4 linked regions of the Homo sapiens genome follow. The protein of the gene in region 4 purifies or fractionates together with the protein of the main gene of each other region. This does not show direct contact. Each region holds a gene or a part of one and is shown on either strand. Other genes may lie near its edges.

The links. Proteins that work in one complex are often made in the same cells at the same time.
Region 1: the proteins of FAM133A (region 4) and MMAB purify together in Homo sapiens (affinity purification with mass spectrometry; one large-scale study listed by BioGRID and IntAct). This does not show direct contact.
Region 2: the proteins of FAM133A (region 4) and HSDL2 purify together in Homo sapiens (affinity purification with mass spectrometry; one large-scale study listed by BioGRID and IntAct). This does not show direct contact.
Region 3: the proteins of FAM133A (region 4) and NT5C2 purify together in Homo sapiens (affinity purification with mass spectrometry; one large-scale study listed by BioGRID and IntAct). This does not show direct contact.

Annotation. Positions count from the first base shown.
Region 1 is NC_000012.12:109,556,505-109,560,691, forward strand, and holds part of MMAB (corrinoid adenosyltransferase MMAB precursor), read right to left. Parts: intron 2,652-4,187; coding exon 2,592-2,651; intron 633-2,591; coding exon 524-632; 3' UTR 1-523. UniProt on the Homo sapiens protein: Converts cob(I)alamin to adenosylcobalamin (adenosylcob(III)alamin), a coenzyme for methylmalonyl-CoA mutase, therefore participates in the final step of the vitamin B12 conversion.
Region 2 is NC_000009.12:112,403,421-112,407,607, forward strand, and holds part of HSDL2 (hydroxysteroid dehydrogenase-like protein 2), read left to right. Parts: intron 1-574; coding exon 575-738; intron 739-2,203; coding exon 2,204-2,302; intron 2,303-4,187. UniProt on the Homo sapiens protein: Has apparently no steroid dehydrogenase activity. Controls bile acid (BA) and lipid metabolism in response to nutritional cues.
Region 3 is NC_000010.11:103,190,473-103,195,323, forward strand, and holds the start of NT5C2 (cytosolic purine 5'-nucleotidase), read right to left. Parts: upstream 2,801-4,851; 5' UTR 2,764-2,800; exon of another isoform or gene 1,934-2,763; intron 1-1,933. UniProt on the Homo sapiens protein: Broad specificity cytosolic 5'-nucleotidase that catalyzes the dephosphorylation of 6-hydroxypurine nucleoside 5'-monophosphates.
Region 4 is NC_000023.11:93,680,188-93,685,061, reverse strand, and holds part of FAM133A (protein FAM133A), read right to left. Parts: intron 1-4,874.

The sequences.
Region 1 (4,187 bases), on a different chromosome or scaffold from region 4:
TCCAAATCTTGTCCGCCTTCCCCTTTACAAATGTGACATTTAAAGCACCTTTGGCACAGGTAAATCACAATTACATTTTCAAGGGCCTCTGGTCCCATTCCAAATCTGTGAACAACCTGAGCTGGCAGTGGGAGGGCTCTCTCTCACACACACACACACACACACACACACACACACACACACACACACGGCTCCAGCCTTTCCAACTTTTATTCCTTTTCCGCACAGCTCCTTCTCATTGCAGCAATCACTTTACCTGTCTTTCCTGCAATGCCAATTCATTCCCACATCCCTCCAAGACCCAGGAGAGCTTGGGGAAGCAGGGTCAGGGACAGAATCCCCAAAGGGTCACAGTCCCTTGAGGAAGGTGGCAAGAGGTGTAGATCAAAGCTGAGCTGGGACAAAAGGCTGCTTTGAGCCTCTCTGGGTGAGCTCTTCAGGAACCAGGACCCCAGAAGGGCAAGCTCCTCTCTCCACGGCCATCGCCATGGAGGGATCCTCCAAGCTCCCACTTTCTGTGATTTCAGAGTCCCTCAGACTCGGCCGATGGGTCATTTTTCATGTATATTTTCTCTTGATTCCCCTCCTTCATGGCTGCATATCTGGCTAGCGTGAAGAGATAGTCACTGAGTCTGGAGGGGCAGAGAGAGAGAAGCAAACAGAATGGTTTGAAATGAGAGATCAACGCTAACTGGGTCTTCCCATATCCGCCTACAAGGAGGAGATATAAATGACGCACTCTGGGCACATTGTGCAGGGAGGGCGGGGGCCCAGCCATCTTGCACTTAATGGATGGCACACGAGGCCAGCTGCTGTGAATGCCAAGGACTCTACTCCAGTGTCAAGGCTGGGGCCATTCCTGCAGGATGAGGCCATTGCCCCGGCCCTACCCCATGGGGCAGATGACTTTGGACTCCTCTCTGAGCCGGTTTTTGCACCTTTGAGTGATCAGGGCTCAGGTGCGTGATCAGTTTGGGTGTTTCCCAAACTACAGTGTGCACAGGCATCACCAGGGGATCTCAGCGACGTGCAGATTCTGACTCAGGAGGGCTGGGCTGGGCTGGGCCCGGGGCTCTGCAGGTCTAGTTCCTGCCCTGGCTGATGCTGACACTGCTGGACTAGGCCCTACTGACATTCTGGATCATTCTGTGTGTTCGGGGCTGTCCTGTGCATCCTGTGCAGTGTAGGATGCTGACAGCACCTTTGGTCTCCACCCACCAGGTGCCAGTGGCACCCCTGCACCCAGTGTGACAACTAGTAATGCCTCCAAACATCGCCAAAGGTACCGGGTGAGAAGCACAGGCTGGAGCACTCTAGAGACCAGAGCCCAGCCCCTTTCCCGCCTCCTCCTTTGAACCAACAGCAATGGTCATCTGTGCATGAGGCCTTCTGCAGGGGCAGCAGTGGAGGGAACTAGAGGACGACGCCACGGGCCCCAGAAGGCGCTTACGCTGTCAGCTCTTCTGCCTTCTGCTGTCCGCACCTTTTGCTGTTTCACTCCCAGCACGAGGCACCACGTTCCTCCCTCTCTCTCTGCCCCAGTCTTGCCCTCAGAGGCCAGCTCCACACCACATCCTCCTGAGTCCTCCCCTGACTCAGGCCCCCTGGGCCCCACGGCTGGCTCTCAGGAAGAGCGAAGGGGAGGTTGTTCAGGGTATTTTACCCCTGGGCCGCATGCTCCTGGAGGGCAGTGGTGTGCCTGTTGCTTGTTGGCTCTGTGAAGCCTCACTGAGGAGATGAAATGGCCTGTCCCGTGCAATGCTATGGGACCGCAGGGTTGCTGCTTTGAAGGTGAAGTAGACCTGCTCCTCACTCCCGGCGAAACCCCCCTCCCAGAAGGAAAGGAGCTGCTCAGGACCCGTCAAAGCGCCATGTCTCTGGGAGGAGTGGCCACAGTCAAGGGCCTGAGGTCACTTTCTAGACACCCAGGACAGCTCCTGGGGTGCAGACCTGCTCCCCCAGCTCTCTACCTGCCCCCAGGCTCTGGCCTTGCCCACACTGATGCCACAGAAGCCAGGGCTGGGGCAGGAACCCGCAGAGCAGGCTTTGGGCCAGGTGTGGCTCCAGCCTCATGGGCCGGCCGCGAGGCAGAGGAAGCCCTCCCTGGGCTAGCCTGGCTCACTGGGGCCTGCATGGGGTCCCCTGAGCGCAGCTTGGCCCGGCTCTCTTGTTGGTTCATGCTGCCGCAGGCCCTCTCGGGGACAGGAAACTGGCTGAGAGAGGGCCTGAAGCCTGGCTCCCTGGTCAGTCACCACCGAGAGGCCTCCCCTGAGCACCCAGCCTCTAAGAACGCCCTTTGCCCCCGCAATGCCACTTTGCACTTAGGTTTTTCTTCCTGGTTTTTACAGCAGCCTCTCCCAATAAGATCTAAATCTTATCGGGACAGGCACAGGGCCCACCTTGTTCACCACTGCCTCCCCTGTGCCCGGCGTGGTGCCTGGCACAGAGCAGATGTTCATAAACACTAAGGGAATGAAGGAGGGGGTGCGGGAATGCTGCCCCACACTGCTTCCCGGACCGCTGCACCGCTGCTACTTCCCACAGATGAGCCTCGGCTTTCAGAGAGGAACCCCCAGGTTCCACGCGAGTACCTGTTTAAGAACTTGGCCACGTTCGCATCGGTCTCTCCCATCTGGACAAGAGGCACCACACTAGAAAGGGAGGAGACACTGAGTCACGTGACATTATGGGGCTCAACAGGCTCTGACCTGGGCCTAAACCTTGAGCAGCATTTCACATCCTGCCACCGCTCAACCTGAACCTGCACAGGCTCGGCCGGCAGTGGAGATGACAAATCCATCACAGGTGGGTTTAAACAGGCCATCGGCCCCCTTTCCACCAGCACATCGCAGGACGGCCTGGCCAAGGAGGGATCAAGGATGGCTGGTGAGTTGAGGGAGCCACCTGGCCTACACCACACCCCAGCCAGCCAGCTTTTGTACCACTGGACCTGGGTCTGGGTGGGGTGAAGTTGGGGTGGTCTGCCTCTAGCCTTCAAAGGAAGTGGGGGCCTGACCCTTAATTCCCAATGGGCTAAACTCTAAGCCCCTTGTACATCATGACTTAGAACAACTTCACAGGGGAGAAAAAGACCCAGGCAGACCAAGCTCCTGATTCCGCAGGATTCTGGATTCCTGGGGTCCATGCCAGTCTATTTGCAGATACATTAGACACTGGACGGCCATCTGCTGGGCACCAGTGTGGTGGCGGGCCCTTGCCGAGCCTTTCCCAGGTATCACCCTGTGGCATACCCCTTGTTGGCAAGCCAGCTACCCAAAGCCCAGCCTCAGGGTTCTCATCCCCACCCAAAGCCATGCACCCGGCTAGCGGCCCAGGAGGGTGTGCACCCAGGCCTGTCACAGAGCTCCAGGCTGTCTCTAGTGGGCACCGCATGCTCAGCGAGGAGCTTCCTCACCCGAGGTGCCCCAGGTGTGTGTCCCCACCTCAGGACAATCTGCACCTTGCCACTGCCATGGCTGCGTAACTCTCTGCTGCATGGAGGACCTATCAGCTGCTCCGCCATGCCTGTTTTCGGGGCCTTTGGGTTGTTTCCAGTTTCTTGCTATTATGAGCACTGCTGATGGATGGCTTTGTACAAATGACAGTTTTTTCTTTTGAAGCCAAAGCTTGTTCTGTTACCTGGGATCTCTAAGGAGCTATCTGGGCCCGAGAGCCTTTCATAAAGAACAAAACCTTAGTGGTGTGGGACCGTGGAAGAGCTCAGGCTTGGCCCAGACAGACGTGGACTCCAATCTGGATTCTGCTATCAACCATGTGGGGGACCGTGACCATGGTGTCATTTCTCTGAGCCACAGCTTCCTGACTCCTGTAAAACAGAGGCCACCACCACCTCTCTCCCAGGGCTATCAACAAGGAGTAAATGAAATTATGAACATAAAGTGCCAGTCCATTGGATCAAAGTAGGGCTTGCTTTCTCTTCTCTGTAAAGCTGGCTGGCAGCCTGGTCTCTGAGTGGTGTAGATAGAGACTTTGCTCATTTTCTTCTAAAGATTCCTTGAAAAGGCTGTCAGTAGCTTTGGAGGAGGTGGTGGCTAGTCTGCTGACAACGTCCACCTGGGCTCCCCACAGCCATGCAGGCCTTTCAGGAGCCTTATGCACCCAGCAGCCAGCAGGGTCCTTTCATGTCTACCCCTGTCCCCAAGATGGCTGAGGCTGAGAACCCAGCA
Region 2 (4,187 bases), on a different chromosome or scaffold from region 4:
GCGGAACATTATTTCATTGTATGCGTGGCTACACCACATTCTGCTTATCCGTTCATCAGCTGATGGACGTTTGAGTTGTTTCCACCTTGGCTATTATGAGCATTCATTGAACAATTATTTGCTTTTAGGTAATTTATTTTAAGTGGTATGTAGTCATTGTGGAAACTTTGAAAAATATTAAAGAATATAAAGGATGTGATAAAATTTGCTCATAATCCCACCACTCAAAAAAAAAAAGCTTTATTAACACGTTTTCTGTGGGGAAAAAAATGCATGTTTATATAATTTGTTTTATAATTCTTTATTTCTCTTGAAGATTTGCTTTGCATTTGAACAGATTTTGTTTGCTAAATCACAGCAAGACTGGCCAACTGCAGTTGTCATAAATAATTTATCAGTCATTGTGCAATGGGAGTATAGTGGAGTTATCTGCCATCAGATGGGCATGGGGAGGGTTTAGAGAAAATTTCACAGAGGAGGAAACATATATTATGAAAATATGCATGAGGTTCTGATACCTGTCAGTAAATAAAACATTGGGTCTTCTAATAAGGTCGTATTTGTTCTGTTGTAGGAGGCTGGCAGGATGTACAGTTTTTATCACAGGTGCAAGCCGTGGCATTGGCAAAGCTATTGCATTGAAAGCAGCAAAGGATGGAGCAAATATTGTTATTGCTGCAAAGACCGCCCAGCCACATCCAAAACTTCTAGGCACAATCTATACTGCTGCTGAAGAAAGTGAGTGTGACAGTGCCATTTGATAAAATGTCTTTCTAGTGGTTTCAATACATAGAGAATTTGCTGGAGAGTTTAGTTAAAGCTATTTGAAAGCTACCCTGAACATAATTTTATCTAGTGAAAGAAGTATTTATGTTGTCACCTTGGGGCAGTGCTTCTGACCGTTTTTCTCCACCAGCACTTTTAAGCAATGTGAGAAACTCCAGTTAAAAATCTTATTTCATGGCGGGGCGTGGTGACTCACACCTGTAATTTCACCCAGCTACTCGGGAGGCTGAGGCAGGAGAATCACTTGAACCTGGGAGGTGGAGGTTGCAGTGAGCCAAGATCATGCCACAGCACTCCAGCTTGGGTGACAGAGCGAGACTCCATCTCTTAAAAAAAAAAAAATCTTGGTTCTTGAGGGCAGTGGTTCTTGGATGGGAGGGGGAGTAGGGAAGTGGAGTAGAGAGGAGAGAATTTGATTGGTGAGTGGCATGAACTCTTTGAGAAAGCGTTCTGTGTTATTTATTCTCTGTACAATTTGCAAGTCATCATTTTAATACTTTTAGTTGACAAATAATTATCACATACTTCTATTTAAGGCATAGCGCTAGGCACAGAGCCAGGAGAGAGGGCTTAAAAATTCAAGTTCAGTTGACATTGCTAGTTTTGTTAATCATGTTCAGAGCACTGTGGTTATGTTAGAGGAATGCATGTGAAGTGTTTATGAGTGAAATGATGTCAGGGATTTGCTTTAAAACACACCAGCAAAAAATAAAACAGGGGACAGGAAAGATAAACATATTAACTGACAAAACTAACAATCGTTGAAGATAGGTGATGGATTCCTGTTAGTTTATTACAGCATCTTTACATTTTTATATAGTTTAGAATATTTCCACAATAAAAAGTTTTTAAAAATTACTTTCAACTGGGTGAGGTGGCTCAAGCCTGTAATCCCAGCACTTTGGGAGGCCAAGGCGGGTGGATCACTTGAGGTCAGGAGTGCGAGACCAGCCTGACCAACATGGCAAAACCGTGTCTCTACAAAAAATAGAAAAATTAGCCTGGCGTGGTGGTGCATGCCTATAGTCCCAGCTACTTGGGAAGCTGAGGTGGGAGGATCCTTTGAGCCTGGGAGATTGAGGCTGCAGTGAGCTGTGTTTGTGCCACTTCACCCAAGCCTGGGCAAGAGAGTGAGACCCTGTCTGAAAAACAAAAACAAACAAACAAAAAACTTCCTTTTTTTAGCTTTTTAAAAAAATTACAAAGAAACCCCCACCAAACCTTCGTTTTTGTTTTTTAATAGTGTTAGCCTAGCTAGTCTGTCCTGCTATATGGTAGAGTCACTGGTGGTAAGATAGAGTTATTTATATTGATTTTCTGAAAACAGGGTACTTTTTTCTTTTGACTGTGATATTGGAATTAAAGGTATAATATTTAAATGCTTTAACGCTTTTTCATTTTGTATCCTTTATATAAGTTGAAGCAGTTGGAGGAAAGGCCTTGCCATGTATTGTTGATGTGAGAGATGAACAGCAGATCAGTGCTGCAGTGGAGAAAGCCATCAAGAAATTTGGAGGTAATACCTTCATTCTGAAAAAATTATTGGATATTGGTAAAATAAAGGTATAACTATAATGTTAATTTAAAAATTTGTTTTGAGTTTTGAATTTTCTGAGTCTTTGGAGAAATACGTATTTGCTCACACAGAACATGATTTAAAACCATCTGATAAGGCTGGGCGTGGTGGCTCACACCTGTAATCCCAGCACTTTGGGAGGCCGAGGCAGGCAGATCACTTGAGGTCAGGAGTTTAAGACCAGCCTGGCCAACATGGTGAAACCCCGTCTCTACTAAAAATACAAAAATTAGCTGAACATGGTGGTGGATGCCTGTAATCCCAGCTACTCAGGAGGCTGAGGTGGAAGAATTGCTTGAACCTGGGAGGTGGAGGTTGCAGTGAGCTGAGATTGCACCACTGCATTCCAGCCTGGGTGACAGAGCAAGACTCTGTCTCAAAAAGAAAAAAAAAAAAAAGAAAAAGAGTGTGGAATGATAGACTGTGGAGACTGGGAAGAAAGAAGGGATGCAAGGGGGGTAGATGAAGAGAAATTACTTAATCGGTACAATGTTTGCTGTTTGGGTGATGGATACCCTAAAAGTCCTGGACACTGCACAATCTATGTATGTGAGAAAATTGCACTTGTGCCTTATATATTTGTTTTTGAAAAAATTCTTCCTTTATGTGGTTAAATTTCATCTTCTTCACAAAGTCAGTTCCCTCACCATGCCAACTAATCAGAATTATATTTTTCTTTCTCTGATTTCTTTTTTCTTTTTTTTTGAGACTGAGTCTTGCTCTTGTCACCCAGGCTGGAGTGCAGTGGCGCAATCTCGGCTCACTGCAACCTCTGCCTCCTGGGTTCAAGCGATTCTCCTGCCTCAGCCTCCCGAGTAGCTGGGATTACAGGCGCCTGCCACCATGCCCAGCTAATTTTTGTATATTTAGTAGAGACAGGTTTCGCCACATTGGCCAGGCTGGTCTCGAACTCCTGACTTCATGATCCACCCAACTCAGCCTCCCAAAGTGCTGGGATTACAGGCGTGAGCCACCGTGCCCGGCCTCTCTGATTTCTTAAAACATTCATTTGATCCTTATCTTGTACTATTTTAGATCTTAGTATTTCTTTTCTCCCCAATTAGTTCAAAAGTTCCTAGAAAAAAGGTGTTGGGGATTGAGCTAAGGCTTTCATGGTATTATAGTAGGGCACCTAGGCATGTCCAAATCCTGCCTAAACCATTACCACTCTCCCCGCTAATGTTCTGGAGGACCATATGTACATGTGAGGGACAATGGCCAGTGGAAAATGAGGGAATGCTTCAGTGTTAGCAAGGCTGTACTTATAATCCCAATGCAGAGTGCTGTGGGGTGCTGGACTGAAGCACGGAGCTTTGGCTCAAGTGGAGCCTCTTCCCTTAAATCCAAAATCTTACCCCTAGCCGGCAGCCTTTCCCAAAGAAATGTGAATGCCTGTGTCAGAAGAGGAGAGAAAATGCAAAATGATGTTTGTCCAACTGATAGGGCGCTAAATGTGAAATGTGCCACGCTCAAATGCAGGATATTTTATCTAAAATGACTTCACCTAGTAGTAAAAGTGGTTAACTAGTGCCACTTAGGATTTGATGTAATTAGTTTATCCACTAATTTTTGGAGAGGACGTAAGGGGAGAAAGCTGAAGCTTTTCATTCTCCCATATTCATTCAGTTTTAGTTCTTTTTTTTTTCTTCTTTGAAACAGGGTCTCACTCTGTCACCCAGACTGGTATGTAGTGGCATGATCGTGGCTCACCACAGCTTTGGCCTCCTGGGCTCAGGTGATCCTCCAACCCCAGCCTCCCAAGAAGCTGGGACTATAGGTGCCCACCACCAGGCCTAGCTAATTTTTGTGTTTTTAGTAGAGATGG
Region 3 (4,851 bases), on a different chromosome or scaffold from region 4:
AAAAAAACTAACATTTATAGAGAACTTAATGTGTGCCAGTATCACTTCAACTGAATTATTCTATTTAATCCACATAACTCTGTAAAATTTGTTCTATTTTTCCCTTCTCAAGGTGAGAGAAACTGAGTGAGCTTGTCTAAGGTTAACTGAGTTCCCCGAGGTTGCATGATGTTAAGTAGCAAGCCAGACTACAAAATCCGGGCCCTTAAATAAATGCAATGTCTCCTGGCTGAAAGTATGACTGCCTTTACTGCTCACGTCACTCAACATATGCCTTGTGATAGTTAGTATTTTGTGTTAAATGTCTAAAAACCTCAAAACATTACAACACTTATTCAACAAAAATTTACTAAGAGCCTGTGTGCCAGGCATTGTTGACTACCGGGGCACATTAGAGAGCATCTACTAATGAAGATTAGATGAATTCTCTAAATACATGGACATCCCAGAAATATTGGTAAGAGCAAAATCCCAAATAATATGTACACAGCAAGTGTACTAGATAAAAACCAGTCTATGTAAGTACTTTAAAAGAGCACAGTCATAACATGACAAAGTTGTGGGTTTTTGTTTTTGGGGATTTGTTGTTATTTACTATTTCACTGAATTAAGCTTTTGGTAAGAGAATTAAGCAACAGGGTCGGACGCAGTGGCTCAAGCCTGTAATCCCAGTACTTGGGAGGCCGAGGCGGGCAGATCACCTGAGGTCAGGAGTTCGAGACCAGCCTGACCAACTTGGAGAAACCCCGTCTCTACAAAATTAGCCAGGCGTGGTGGCGCATGCCTGTAATCCCAGCTACTCGGGAGGCCGAGGCAGGAGAACTGCTTGAACCCGGGAGGTGGAGGTTGCAATGAGCCAAGATCATGCCATTGCACTCCAGCCTGGCCAACAAGAGCAAAGCTCCGTCTCAAAAAAAAAAAAAAAAGAGAGAGAGAGGAAATACTTAAAAAAAAAAACCTGTGTTTTATGTACTCCTCTTTCCCCATAAAACAGGAGAAATAGCCTAGAGAAAGATTAATGAGCACCTCTGTGCCTAACATTCTATTGTAATCTGGCTTTCTTTAGGAAGATGTGATGTCTTCTGGTTAAGGGTGGCAGGTACTATAAGGGAATACTATCTATATAAATCTTCTTACAATTACAAACTTCTGAAAACTTGTAGCTGATGGTAAATTTTCATACAATGGCATCAAACCTTTGAACTGAAAGGAATCTTGCATAACATCTCCTTCAGAACCCCCCCCACTCCACCCCGCGCCCCTCCACCTTATTTTACAGATTTGTTGGTTACTAAATCCTAAAACCTTAATTCTGGGTCAATGAGAGTAATGCAGCTACCTATACTGTTGAAATGTAGTGGTTTACACTGCAATGGAAATGCACTTCAGAAATAAGTCTGTGTATGCTAGTATCAACCCTGCATGTGGAGTTTTTATTTTAATTACTAACCAGCTATGTTTTCTTGAACTTAACCTTTTTTGTTCTTTTTTTTTTTTCCACTCTCAGCTCACACCTATTTTTTTTCTCTTTTCGAACTTCACCCTTTCAGGCCTGGATGTCTTCATCTGGATAAATTCTAACCGTTGTTGAAAAGCCATGTGGTAAATATTTTTGAAACCTAAAGCCTTCTCTACGCAATAACACTAAGTTTTCATGGTAAATGACACAGTTTCAATATTCTCCCTTTCACATTATGGTCAGTAGTTTGCATTCGTTGCTTGAAGAGGCGAAATGAATAGTCTACAGACACTGGGAACCAAGTACAGCTCAATCCTGAAGAACTCATCGGCCCCTGGACGGGCGCGCACACACCCCCCTGTAATGGTGACTAGTCATTTCGGGGCGCTGTACTTCAGAGCACGACCCCCCTCAAACATCAAGGCCCTAAAGGTGAAAGCCCAGGAAAACGTCGATTCGGACAGCAGCCTCTACCTGCTGCTTTTAGAAGCTGTGGCCTGCCGGAGTCAAACCCCCAAAACGTTTTTCTTAAACTAAGGGTTCAGGCCTCAGATCGGCATCTCGCCCTCTCCGATTTCAGGAGCCCCGAAAAAAGGAGAAGAATAGGCCGCCACTGAACGGCTCAGCCCCCTGACCAGGAGCTGTCCGGATGTTTTTTGTGGCGGCTTGCAATTCGCTGTGACCTTTCCAGGAAGTGTTGCACACGGGCGTGTGGCAAACGAGCTGGCCGTTTCTCGCGGTCCTGCTAAAACGCTGTCAACCTGGCGCTCCACCAGAGGCCCCTTGGCTTCTCGGGAGGCGACCGAGGAGCTCTGGGGGCGGGGAGGCTTTTACAAGAAGCGAAAAGACGGCCTCAGGGGTGGCCGGGAACAGCCTGGAATCAGCTGGAGGACGTCAGCAGGACTGAGGAAAGGGCTACCACCAGCGTGAGGAAAGGGGGGAAGAGGGCGGAACGCGGCGAACGGCCGCGCTGGGAGGCTGAGGCGGGGTCCCAGCGAGCCGGCGGCTGGGAAACAATGGCGCGAGCGTGACGTGGGCCGGAGGCGTCGCGGCGGCGCGGAGGAAGGGGCTGCCGTGGGGCGGGGGCCGCACCGAGGGAGTTGGGAGGCGTGCGGCGTCCGCGAGCGCGCTGGCGGGGACTCGGCCTAAGGAGAGGGGCCTTGGGGCCATGGTCCCTGGGGGCCGGGGGCGGGGGCAGGCGGCGGCCGCTACCCTGGGGTCGCGTGTTCGGCCGCGCACCTCCCCACCTAGCTCCCCGTTCGCCCGCTCCTTCCCCGCCCGCCCACGGGGCCCGCCGCACTCACCGGCTCCAGCGCACCGCAACAATCCCAGCGCGCAACTGCCGCAGCCGCCTCAACGCGCGCCCTCCCCGCCCCCGCCGCCCGGCACCGCCCCGCGCCGCCCCTCTGCTCGCGCCCGGCCAGGGACCGGCGCGCTGTTCCGTCCCCCAGCTCCGCCGCAGAGTTCGGCGAAGCCGACGCTCCCTGACCGCGCTGCGTCTGTCTGTCCCGCGGGTCTGGAGATCTTCAAACGATGGAACACCGGCTTTGCCCTTCTGAGGGTCTCCATCCCTTGGCATTCTGCCTGCGCCCCTCAGCCTGGCCCTGGGCTAACCTCTCCACTGTGTCTCATTCAGAAGAAGCTTTTCCTTGGGAGGAGAGGGCATCCTTTTTCCCAGTCACAGAATGTTTTGGTCTAATGGACCTCAAGGCCCCTCATGCGTCCACACCCCCATGGCACCCTCGAATCCCCTTGATGGCTAAAAACACCAGCTTTGAAGTTTGTCAGAACGAGTTCCAGTCCCAGTACCACCACTTACAAACTGTAACCTCGGGCGAGGTACCTGACCTCCTATACCTGGTGCCCACATTTGTAGCACCAGGATAGGGAACAACAGTCCCCACATCAAAGGGTGTTGACGGGATGAAATCACACAATATAGGTGAGGCCCTCAGCAGGATCCTGGCACACAGTAAGCACTCAATAAATGTTCACCCCACCACCAGCAACTCAGCAGGAAGACTCCGCAAAAGCAGCTAGCTATTTCCAGAGGACTGAATTCCTTGGTCCGAGCAGCTCTCACCAGTGAGAAAATGTGTCTAAACTTCCACTCTCAGGGCCGAAATTCGATGCCTTGGAGCCACAGAGAACAAACGTCTAATCTCTCCTGGACCTTTGACTTTTCAGATACTTTACTTCTATCACCTCTGCCCAAGGTCTTCTCATTCCACATCAGTGTCTCCCGTTCCTTCCATTGTTCCTCCTCTGCCCTGGTTTTGAGGGTCTTTATCCCTCTCACGCAAATGGTAGATTTGACTGTGATTTCTTTAGAATACATCACCCAAGACTGAACCAAATGTTTGTGGTATCATCAGAGCAAAGCAGGACTATAGCTTCCTCCTTTTGGGACCTATCGCTTTGCACTCCTGCGATAAAGTTCTTGGCACCCATACTGTTGACTCATATTGGGCTTGCAGTCAACCAAAACCTCCGCGTCTTTTTAATAAGTGCTCCGCCAGAGCACTTCTACCCCTTCTTGTGCTTCTCAGCCAACTTCGCTTCAGGTCAGCTAAGGATAGACCTTGGGCCCCTCACCTTCTAAATTTCTCAGGATATATGGAAAAGAGGAATAGGGGTTGGAAGCTGGCATAACACAATCTTTAAACCAAGTGCATTTGAAAAAAGGCCAGGGTGGCGGGGCGTGGTAGCTCACACCTGTAATCCCATCACTTTGGGAAGCCAAGGCAGGTGGATCATTTGAGGTCAGGAGTTCAAGACCAGCCTGACCAACATGGCGAAACCCCATCTCTACTAAAAATACAAAAATTAGCTGGGCATGGTGGCACGCACCTGTAGTCCCAGCTACTCGGGAGGCTGAGGCAGGAGAATCGCTTGAACCCGGAAGGCGGAGGTTGCAGTGAGCCAAGATCACGCCACTGAACTCCAGCCTGGGCGACAGAGGGAGACTCCATCTCCAAAAAAAAAAAAAAAGAAGAAACGAAAAAAGGCCAGGGTTTGTGTCTAAACACTATGGTACTGAGAGAAAAACAAATATAGAGACACACACAAATGAATGTGATCACAACTGTGAAAAAAAACTGCACACGCAAAAGACTACAGGGAAATATGTAATTGATTATGTTGTTTTCTCTCAGTGATAAGATGGGGTGGTTTCTTCTTTGTACTTTTGTATTAATTTCTTACGGTGTTTGTATTACTTTTATAATCAAGAACTTTGTTTTAAAAAATAAATCAGAAAAAAGAATTTAAAAAATCAGAGAGATGGAATAACTTGAAAAAAACTGAAAACAAAGTTAAAAGATAACAGAATAAGGGGAAAACTATTCGCAATACACAAAAGACAAAGGATTTGTCTATAAAGGACTCTTAAC
Region 4 (4,874 bases):
TCATCCCAAGAAAATACCATGCTTTTTGGAAAGAACAACGATGCATAAAAGCTTCAAATACCAATCAGAATAAAGCATAAGCTCTTTAAAAATTGTACAATTTACATGGCACCCATATATGATAATACCTCAGAGCAGCCAGTATGAGTGCTATTCAAGTGAAAGATAGTTCCTCTTTTGCAAAAGTAGTAATTGAAACACTATTTCAGCTTTCTGTATAAACTTTGACCAAATAATGACCCAATTTAAACAAACAATGTTATTCATTATTGTGTTAAATGTTTGTTTTTTTAATTATAAAAATAATATATGCTTGTTTTAAAAATTCAAAACGTGATTCAGAATAGAAAATACAAAGTTAAAGCTTTTCCTTCAATCTGATTTCACTGGTTCGGTGTATATATTGTCAGACATTTTTCTATGTGAATGAAAACAAACACACATGCACAGAACATATATGCATCTATACTTTTTTATATAGATGGGAGCAAATAATAGATATTGTCTCACAACTTGCTTTTTTCATTTGAAACTCTATTATGGACATCTTTTTTACATATTGAGAACCAGCTCTTTTGTTCTAAGTTACCAAGGCAGATATGCCCTTAAGCTCTGGTTTCTGGCATTTTCCCAACCATCTAAATGTTTCAATAACTGATTTTTGTATTAAAAAAATTGACTTCTGGCATAAAAAGAGGCACGTAGTTCAATAGAACAGAACAGAAAATCAAAACATTAATCCACATATCTACAGCCAACTGATTTTTGACAAAGGCTCCAAGAACACTCATTGGGAAAGGGCAGACTCTTCAATAAATAGTGCTGGGAAAATTGGATAACCATAGGCAGAAAACTGAAACTAGACTCCCCCACCTCTCTGCCTATACAACAATACACTCAAAATGGATCAGACTTACATGTAAGACACAAGACTATAAATCTATTAGAAGAAAACATAGAGTAAATGCTTCAGGACACTGGTTTGGGAAAAGGCTTTATGAATAAGACCTCAAAAACACAGGCAACAAAAGCAAAAGTAAACAAATGGGACTATATCAAACTAAACAGCTTATGCACAGCAAAGGAAACAATCAACAATGTGAAAAGTCTACCTAGAGAATGGGAGAAAATATTTGCAAAGTATTCATACAACAGGGAATTAATATCCAGAATATACAAAGAACTCAAAACAGCCAAAAAAAAACCCATTTCAAAAATTGGCAAATTAGCTGAATAGACATTTCAAAAGAAGACATGCAAACGGCCAACAAATATATGAAAACATATTCAACATCATTAATCATCAGGGATATGCAAATCAAAACCACGAAGAGATATCATTTCACCCCAGTTAGGATGGCTATTATAAAAAAGATAAAAATTAACAAATGCAGGTGATGATGCATAGAAAAGGGAACTCTTATACACTTTAAGTAGTGAACTAGTACAGCCACTATGGAGAACAGTATGGAGGTTCCTCAAAAAACAAGCATGCATAATTTTTATGATTATAATAGAAATATGATTTGACTTTCCAAAGAAAAGTATTTTTCAAACAATAAAGAAATTGGAGGGAAGTTGTTTTCCATAATTTATGAGACAGGAAAAGGCAATGTGGCAAGTTTGATTATGCTTAATTCAAGCAACAGATTCTGATAAGAATAAAAGTAACTGGGTTATTAGGGTAGCCATTTTATGAGATAGAGTACTGTTTATTAAAATAAGCTCTGGTACTCTGATCTATATTTTCCTTTAAATGCTCATTATATGTAAAGCAATTTTGCAATACTTATCTAAAATACTGTCCTTTAGAAAGAAAATACTAATGAAATGAAAGGGTTAAATAAACAGACATTTTAATTTAATATTAAATGTGGATCATCATTAGATTTCAAAATTTTTCTTCTGAAGACTCTGTGTGTCCTCCTAACTATTAATAGTTTGTGAGGTGTTACTATTTAGAAGTTGGTTGGTAAAACACCAATTCTTTAAAACCTGAAAATTTAGTAAACTAATGTAATTTGTTGCATGACAATTACACATTAGTAAATCAGGCACAATTAAGAGACAACTGTTAAATAAAATTAGAGTGCAATTAAAGGCTAAAAATGAATTTTATTTGAACAGCAAGTAAAAATGGTACTGCTGGCTGAACGCGGTGGCTCACTCCTGTAATCCCAGCACTTTGGGAGGCCGAGGCAGGTGGATCACTTGAAGTCAGGAGTTCGAGGCCAACTGACCAACATGGTTAAACCCCGTCTCTATCAAAAATACAAAAATTAGCTGGGCATGGTGGTGAACGCCTGTAATCCCAGCTATTTGGGAGGCTGAGGCAGGAGAATGGCTTGAACCCGGGAGATGGAGGTTGCAGTGAGCCGAGATCACACCATTGCACTCCAGCATGGGCAACAAGAGCAAAACTTTGTCTCAAAAAAAGAAAAAATGGTACTGCTGTAAGGAAGCCAGTTCATTTGTTTAAGAAGTTAATTAGTACAGTACTAAATGTATTCTTGTGCAGAGCAATACTCTGAGCAAGGACAGAGGATTATAAATAAGAAAATATCTTGGTCCTTTTCCTAGGTAAATTTAAAATATACATAGGAAAAGAACATGTGTGTGTACACACAATAAATGACCTATGTGGTTCTGTTATAATGTTTATCATAAAGCTCACAAAAATGTAATACACTCCAAGCAAATAAGCTCTGAAGGAAAGAAAGAGTTAAAGAACTATGTTCCACTGGGTAACTATTCCTGGAGAAGATAAGTTTAGTAAAAACTGTTTGGACATGCACTATGTTATCAGAATTTTACATGTATTATGTCATTTCAAGCTCACCATTGCTCTGTGAGATGGGTACTATTATTATCCCCATTCTACAGATGAGGAAATTGAGGCATAGAGAGTTAAGAAATGTGCCCAAGGTCACTGGAGGGTAAAGGACACAGCTTGTACTTATACACTGGTTTGATTCAAGACAGTGAAGTATCACTAAAAATTTGGGATTAGGGCAAGGATATAAGTGTTTTCAGAAAGACCTTTCAAAGAACTATGTATAGCATATCTGAGAGGCTAAGGGGCAGTTTGGGGGCTGCTACAAGCAGATTGGTCAGATAGTCTAATCATTTATGTAATTCTCTTGTCATGTCATATTTAATCTTTCTTACAAAGAAGGCTAAACACATTCTCATGATGTAGATAATGAAACAGTTTTAATTAAGGTATCCAGTTACCTCTAAACAAACAAAAAAATGCTTATTCTTTTAGATAGACAAATGCTGCTTATAAGAGAAGACAGACAAAAGTGGTCAATATTATAATTTTAAAATTTTGTTTACACCTGTTTTAAGACAGTTGCTAAATCAAAGTAATGAATCTAGAGAATGTAGGCCTCTATTTCTTCTTTCTCTGACAAGCAGATTTTTTAACCAAAAGCAACAATTAGTTCATTGACATCTTGTTTGTTTACTCACTTCTTAGAGAATTGTGAAGTGTTAGCTATCATCACCTTGAAAGTATCAATACTAGATTTGCTGAAGCATTAGTCTATACTACTTACTAAACATATACTTTCATAGAAACATCTGCCAGAATGGAGAACAACTACTTTTTTTCTGAGAGGAGGTACCTAATGAAATTAATTAAATATATTTGGATAGTCTGGAAAAAAATCAGCAGAAAATGTCACTTTGGGCTTCCTCCATTTTGTCCAAATAAATTGCAAAATGGGGAAATAGCCATTGCAAAGATAGATAGATAGATAGATAGATAGACAGAATATATCTAAGATATCATATAAGATATATACATATATATCATATGCACATAAGATATATCTATATATATTGTAAACATTGTCCATTTTTCAAAGTCTTTGGATTTTTTCTTCCTTTATAGTAAAATTAAATAAAATACTTTCAAACTTGCAATAAAAAGGCTTGCTTTATTTGAATTGTAGGATGGAAATTCTTCAGATGAGTACTACAGGCAAAAAATTCCTGATTACCCTTGTAAAAGTATTCTTCCGTGATGTGGTTTTACATTTTTGAAAAATGTACGCTGTTTGTACATTCAAAACTAGCATTAGCAACAAAAGCAAAAATAGACAAAAGGCATCACATCAAACTAAAAAGTTTTTGCACAATAAAGGAAGTAAATGAGTAAAGAGGCAACGTATGGAATGGCAGAATATATTTGCAAACCAAACATATGATAAGGAGTTAAATATTCAAAATATATAAGGAACTCAAACAACTCAGTAATTTTAAAAAACATAATTTTTTAAAATGAGTAAAAGATCTGAAGAGATGTTTTTCAAAAGGCATACAAATCGCCAATAGGTATATGAAAAAATACTTGACATCACTAATCATCAGGTAAATGCAAATTAAAAACATAATGAGATATCATCTCATGCCTGTTAGGACAGCTATTATCAAAAAGACGAAAGGTAAGTGTTGGTGAGGATATGGAGAAAAGTTAACCCTTGTAAACTGTTGCTGGTAATGTGGATTAGTATAGCCATTATGGAAAACAGTATGGACATTCCTCAAAACTACTGTAAGAATGGAACTACCATATGATCTAGTAATCCCAGTACTGAGGATATATCCAAAGGATATGAAATGAATACATTGAAGAGATATCTGTACTCCCATTTTCATTGCAGCATTAGGTACAATAGCCAAGATATGGAATAAACCTAAGTGTCCATCAGTTGATGAATGGATAAAGAAAATATGGTATGTATACACAGTAAAGTATTGATCAGACTTTAAAAAGGGAAATCTTGTCATTTGTGGAAACATAGACAAATCTGGAGAACAATATGCTAAGTGAAATAAGCCAGGAACAGACAAATACCATGTGATCT